2 linked regions of the Homo sapiens genome follow. The protein of the gene in region 1 interacts with the protein of each later gene in a pairwise test. Each region holds a gene or a part of one and is shown in the gene's direction. Other genes may lie near its edges.

The links. The genes of interacting proteins can lie anywhere in the genome.
Region 2: the proteins of ELF5 (region 1) and NFE2 interact in a two-hybrid assay, tested with the Homo sapiens proteins (one large-scale study listed by BioGRID and IntAct).

The regions. Positions count from the first base shown.
Region 1 is NC_000011.10:34,507,202-34,510,853, reverse strand, and holds part of ELF5 (ETS-related transcription factor Elf-5), read left to right. Parts: intron 1-3,652. UniProt on the Homo sapiens protein: Transcriptionally activator that may play a role in regulating the later stages of keratinocytes terminal differentiation. Isoform 2 binds to DNA sequences containing the consensus nucleotide core sequence GGA[AT].
Region 2 is NC_000012.12:54,294,762-54,298,115, reverse strand, and holds part of NFE2 (transcription factor NF-E2 45 kDa subunit), read left to right. Parts: intron 1-167; exon of another isoform or gene 168-352; intron 353-2,357; exon of another isoform or gene 2,358-2,572; intron 2,573-2,811; 5' UTR 2,812-2,867; coding exon 2,868-2,981; intron 2,982-3,262; exon of another isoform or gene 3,263-3,354. UniProt on the Homo sapiens protein: Component of the NF-E2 complex essential for regulating erythroid and megakaryocytic maturation and differentiation. Binds to the hypersensitive site 2 (HS2) of the beta-globin control region (LCR).

The DNA.
Region 1 (3,652 bases):
TCACAGCGCTTCTCCACCTTTTTTTTATCACTTCTCCTAAGGACACTTTTTAGGTCATTTTTTCTTAATCATCTCCCCACCAGAAATGTGAGTACCAGAGATAAACTATACATCTACTGTAGACCTTTGGAGCATGATAAAACACTGTAATTAATAACTCAGTTTTTTGATCCCCAAGAACTCATCTTTGTTCCCTAAAGAGGGGGGCAATATCACCCCCCTTGAGCAGGCCTGGCCTAACCTCAGGCCTGTGTTCACATATCCCTGGGCCTCAGTGTTACTTCTGAGAAAGGGGGCTCTGGACATCTGCCTTTTCACACCTATCCTGCTCTACCTCCACTAAAGAAGTCCTTAAGAGCTAAAATGTTCAATTATTGCAAGGACCTTAGAGGGCCTAGAGAAGAGAGGCTACTGAATACAAAGCAGCCATTATTCTTGAACTCTCACACCTACTGCATGCTGGCTAAGTAGCCAAGGTCTTTTGTGGAGAGCCCAGAGTTAATAACACCCACTCCTGCTGTAACAGGAAAAAAAAAAAAAAACACCTTTTTCTGCTTTTATAAAAGATATTTTTTCCAAAAGCAAGAAATAATTACAGAAGAAAAATAGCATGCTGTACACCTGAGAAGGCCCTTTACAAAAACTTAATGGATATAATTTGCCTTAGAAGGAATTACCAAAGGGAATCAGATACAGCATTGTGTATAGCACTAGAGAGATTACAGATCAAGTGAGTAGGCCGGTATAAAGAGGAGAAAGAATAACAATATTAAAAGAGGTAAAAATACTATTGATCAAAAAATATTTCTAGTTTTTATATAATGCCATTCAATTTACCAAATGACCTTTTTTTTTGTTAATACCCAATGACTTTTGAGAGCAATTAGTGAGGCATAGATGAGGAAGATCTCATTCCCACTGTCGTGTTTTGTATTTGATGGATTCCTTATTTGACACTGAAGACCTGGGGACTGTTTTCTGTTTTCTTCCGTGTGGAATTCACCTCTCCTTTCTCCCAACCCAAAGAAGGTCATATCACAGGCCTGCCATCCTCTTCTTTAGTTTTCTGAGCCTTCTGGCCCAGAAGAAAAGGGATATATTTGTCTTCAGCCCTCACTTAAAGGAACTTTTCTGAAGTCCAGTCCAGAAAGCAGAAGTGGCTTTCAGCTCCTGAGGCCCTTCCCTTCCTCATAACCTCTCACCCCATCCCTCAGCATCCTACCCCCTCCCTGCCCCCCTCACTCAGGATATAAAACCAGCCAATCCGTGGGAAAATCACAGCCCAAACCCAGGCAGCCTTGACATCTGTTTGATTGGGCTCCCAGGAGGAGATCCATGCCCACGATAATCTGCAGAGCACATTAACCCTCTCCAGGCATCAGCAAAGAGACTTCCCAGCAGAGTCTGGAAACTCTTGGGTGATGGCCCAGAAAAGGTGCCTAAGTGTCAGAATTCAAACTCGGTTATATATTTACATCTGGAGAGGAGTTCTCATGCACGTTTTTGTTGTTGTTGTTGTTGTTTTCGAGACAGAGTCTCACTCTGTCACCCAGGCTGGAGTGCAGTGGCACGATCTCAGCTCACTGCAACCTCTGCCTCCTGGGTTCGTGATTCTCATGCCTCAACCTCCTGAGTAGCTGGGATTACAGGTGTGCACCACCATGCCCAGCTAATTGTTGTGTTTTTAGTGGAGACGGGGTTTCGCCATGTTGTCCAGGCTGGTCTCGAACTCCTGACCTCAAGCGATCTGCCCACCTTGGCCTTCCAAAGTGCTGGGATTACAGGCATGAACCACCGCACCCGGCGTCTCATGCACATTTGATGGTGATGATGATGGTGGTTGGAGATTTTCAAGCATCTGCAAAGAATTGACCTTTGGTTTCAGAATCACACAATCCTGCCCCTCTTAGTACTGAGGTTTGATTTGCTATATAAGTGTGCCTTGGGGCTCAATTGTGTTTTCAGAAAGAGAAGCAGATGGGCTGAGAGTCAGAAAACTAAGGACCTCCCTGCCACTTAACTCTGGCATCCACTGGCTATGTGACCTTGAGCTAGTTACACAAATTCCCTGAGTCTCAACTTCCTCAACTGTAAAATGGTGGAGGCGAGGAGGGAAATTGGACTAACTCAGTATCTTCCAACACGTGGTACTCACATCAACTGGCAACATGCCAGATGAATCTGGTTAGGGGTTGCAAACTTTTTCTTAAAGGGCCAGGTATTTTAGGATTAGCAGGCCAAAAGGCAAAATCAAGGATATGATGTAAATATTTATATAACCACTTAAAATGTAACCACTTAAAAATGTAAAGTTTTTTTTATTTTTTATTTTTTATTTTTTATTTTTTTGTGAGACATAGTCTTGCTCTGTCGCCCAGGCTGGAGTGCAGTGGCACAATCTCGGTTCACTGCAACCTCTGCCTCCCAGGTTCAAGCGATTCTCCTGTCTCACTCTCCCGAGTAGCTGGGATTGCAGGCATGCACCAACACACCCAGCTAATGTTTGTATTTTTAGTAGAGACGGGGGTTTCACCATGTTGACCAGGCTGGTCTTGAACTCCTGACCTCAAGTGACCCACCCGCCTCGGCCTCCCAAAGTGCTGGGATTACAGGTGTAAACCACTGCGCCCAGCAGTAAAATTATTTTTAACTGCAGGCTTTACAAAAATAGGTGAGGGACTGCATTTTGCCTATAGGATGTAGTTTGCTAACCCCTGATTTAGGTGGCGCATGAACCATTTTTATTCAAATGCTTAAATATTTATTTTTATGTATGTTTAAAAAATCCTGACTTTCCATTTATATTGCTAATATAAAGTTTTCCTTTTAATTAGCATATTTATGTTAAAACAAAAAGGGAGTTGATGATTTTTTTAAGTATTTTAAGTAAATAATAGTGCTCGTAGTATATGGATTGAGTGAAATTATCACAGTCGTAGGCAAATGACTGAAGTTTAGGAAACACTGGACTAGATGAAGAATTCACTCCTGCCAATCTTAAAATTCCATGTGTTTAATATCCCAAGACACTTACCAGTGGTGTGATCTTGAGCAGCTATGTTCCCTTTGCAAAACGAGGAAAGAACTACTCTATGTCAACATTATTTCAAGAATCAGAAAAAAGAATTCGGGTGAACAGATTGTTTTAATCCACCAAACACAGATTATTATTTTTTCTGAATTGCGGGGAGATGGGATTCAGTAGAGAGTGGCATGTGGGAACATGGGAAGCAGCAAAGTTGAGACCAGCACAGGCAAGAATGTGTGCAAGCGGGGGCCCTAGGCCTGTTCTTTTCTGCCTTCCTTCCAGCCTCAACCACACACCCTGCCCCAGAGCTCCTTGCCGCCACCAAAGTGTGTGGGGACTGGAGCACAGCAATTAGAATGGGCTTTTTAAACAGACACACCTGAGCCACCACCCAGCTTCGCTGGCTTTGCATGTATTACCCGGAATCTCAGAGCCTCCATCCCTCACCTATGAAATGGAACTGCTGCCAGTACCTATCTCAGAGTGGTTGTTCTGAGCAGACCAGGAAGAATATAGCTAAAGTGCTAAAGTACTCAGCATGAAGCCCAAAGTGAAGTGCTTGTTGCAATTACCACAGGTCCACACTCGTCTCCAAAACCTTGGGCCGCACATGCTGCAGAATTC
Region 2 (3,354 bases), on another chromosome or scaffold:
GGGGATTGGGGTGAGTAAAGAACTGTGAAGCAAGAGTCATTGTCTCTGCCTCCTAAACCCCTTCTCCATTCACTTTGCCTTTGGGCAATTTCCGCCAGAACCTGGGTGGAGGAGGGTGGGGTTCCGGTGTTGAAATGGCATCCTGGACAGACATAAACACCCCACCCACTCTGCCCACTGGCAGAGTTGCCTACACCAACTCCCATCTCTGGGGATGGCAGTAAAACAAGGGGATGGAGGCAAGGGCTAGGGGAGATACTCTTTCAAAAGGATCATTTGTAGTTCCTACTAATTTTGTGGTAAGTCGAAGAGAAGATTCCATATTAAATTGCTGTGATGGGCCATCCTTGTGGTGAGTGGTCTAAGGTCATGCAATTTGAGGTCATACAATCCTATCCTCTGTCCTTCTTTTTCTTTCTTTTCTTTTTTTTTTTTTTTTTTTTTTTTTCCGAAACAGAGTCTCACTCTGTCGCCCAGGCTGGAGTGCAGTGGTGCGATCTTAGCTCACTGCAACCTCCGCCTCCCGGGTTCAAGCAATTCTCCCTGCCTCAGCCTCCTGAGTAGCTGGGATTACAGGCGCCCACCACCAAGCCTGGCTATTACTTGTATTTTTAGTAGAGATGGGGGTTTCACCATGTTGGCCAGGCTGGTTTCGAACTCCTGACCTCAGGTGATCCACCTGCCTCAGCCTCCCAAAGTCCTAGGATTACAGGTGTGAGCCACTGCACCTGGCCGTTTTTTTTTTTTTTTTTTTTTTTTGAGACAGGGTCTTGCTCTGTCACCCAGGCTCTCGAGTGCGGTGGCACAATCATGGCTCACTGCAGCCGTGACCTTTCAGGTTCAAGTGATCCTCCCACCTCAGCCTCCTGAGTAGCTGGGACCACAGATGTGTGCCATTATGCCTAGCTAATTTCTGCATTTTTAGTGGAGATGGGTTTTCACCGTGTTTCTCAGGCTGATCTCAAACTCCTGGGCTCAAGCAATCCTTCCACCTTGGCCTCCCAAAGTGCTTCCCCTCTCCCATGTTTCCTTCATCCTAGCCTGCTTCCCTATACTGATATGGCACGGTATGTCTGTGTGCGTGCACATAGACACAATGTCTGACCGTAGAGATCAGGAAGACCTTGCCAAATCTACTTGGAATCTCTTGCTGACGGCAGGGAAAACAGATGCAAGGAAGGTGGGTGTCAGGGAATAGGGAGGTAGCATGAGGAGAGGGACTGACAGAAGAAGATAAAGACACGGGTGAGGGTTTGCTGAGAATTCTAAGCTATCCAAGCAGAAAGGGACCTCCAAGGTCAATTTGTCCAACTCCCTGGTTTTACAAATGAGGAAACAGAGGCCCAGAGAAGTGAGATGGCTTGCCCAACATCACACTGCTGCTTTGTGGCAGAGCTGCAACTAGAACCCAGGTCAAAAGAAAAGGGACTGGAGGGCAGTGTATATTCAAGGCTCTAAAGAGACATTGCCCAGAAGGAGAAAGAGAGACTGACACTCCACAGAAAGAACTGATGAATGTAGACTTCCAGTAGAGGTTTGGAGTATGAAGATACAGGGGCAGGAGGGGAAGGTGCCTAGAAGACATTATAGTCAGGTAGAGTCAGGTTCTGGACCTCATCCTGCTATTATTTATCAGCTTCAGTCTCAGTTTCTGATGTACCTTTAGAATCTTTGTGAAAACCAGTCTTTTTTTTTTTTTTTTTTTTGAGACATAGTCTAACTCTGTCAGCCAGGCTGGAGTGCAGTGGCGCGATCTCGGCTCTCTGCAGCCTCCACCTCCTGGGTTCAAGTGATTCTCCTGCCTCAGCTTCCCGAGTAGCTGGGACTACAGACATGTGCCACCCCACCACGCCCAGCTAATTTTTGTATTTTTAGTAGAGACGGGGTTTCCATGTTGGCCAGGCTGGTCTCGAACTCCTGACCTCAGGTGATCCACCTGCCTTGGCCTCCCAAAGTGCTGGGATTACAGGCCTGAGCCACCGCGCCCGATGAAAACCAATCTTATAAACTAAGCTTGCAATACCAGCACAGTTCTTAACAAGTGCTTACTAAGTCTTTACTAAGGTTATATTACCTCAGAAGAGGAAAGACTTCTGATTGTATGGGTTAAGGTATGGCCCAAATGACCCTGTGAGGACACAGGACAGAGGTCCAGTGTCTCCAGAGCCCATTCCTTCTGTGCCTCTGCTGCCTGCAACTGATAAACCTCTTATCTGGCCCAGGCAGGGGAGCCCAGGGCCAGGATAGGAGGAGAGGGCAGAGCTGCTATCAACCACCAGGCCTGGGCCATATCTTGGAGAGGAGGAGGGGCTGTCTGCTTGCCTCTTTCCACAACTTGTTCTTGGGGATCCTCAAGCATATACTGTCATCATCTTGGAAAGAAAAGGCTGAGAACGTAAAACTGAGGACAGAGGAGGAAAGCAGGGTGACCCCTGATGTTGCCCTAGAAAATGGAAAACAAAACACAGCAAAACAGAAAAACAGAAGATCTGACTCTGCCTTTAGCCAGGAAAACAGTTTGGGGGAGTAAAAAGTATTAGGGAAAAGAGTGGGCATTTTGCCTGGAAAAAAGGTAAAGACCTCCTGTGCTACCAAAGGAACTGACTGTGGCCATAGTTGGCGAGGTGGAGATCACAACACAGGAAAAGACTTTCCATCTTAAGGGATTGATGAATCCAGCATGAGTGAGGATGGGGAGGAGGCGGTCTCTCCTTCCCTCAGGGGAAGCTGGAGGGAGCCCCTCCAAGGAGGTAGTGCAAACTTGCTGACCCTAGCAGGTGTAGCTCTAACACCTCTTTTCCTTTGACACAGGTTTCTAGAGCCATCTGGGCTTTCCGGGAACCTGGACCAGACTCTGGCCCAGTAGGATGTCCCCGTGTCCTCCCCAGCAGAGCAGGAACAGGGTGATACAGCTGTCCACTTCAGAGCTAGGAGAGATGGAACTGACTTGGCAGGAGATCATGTCCATCACCGAGCTGCAGGTGAGTAAGGGGGGATAGGGCAGGGGAGGCCGTGTGTCGGAGAAGAGAGAAGCAGGGAGTTGGCCAGGACTGAGGCAGAGGGCAGGAGCAAGCAGGGCTCAGGGCTGGTAATGCTCCAGGCACTGGGAAAGGAAGGGAAAGATCCGGATGGAAGACACTGAGGAACGTTGAGGAGGAGGAGTGGAGGAGCAGTGGTGGGGAGGGAATGATCTGATTGGGAGTGTAGGCTCTCTCAGCAGCCACTTGACTCACATCTCTCTCTACCCCACCTCCTGCTCTCCCTCCCGTGCTCACCTTCTTCTCTTCTGACCTGCCTCTCTGATCCTGCCATCTTCTTCCCTCATTACCTCCGCCTGCCCTTGGCAACTGGGCC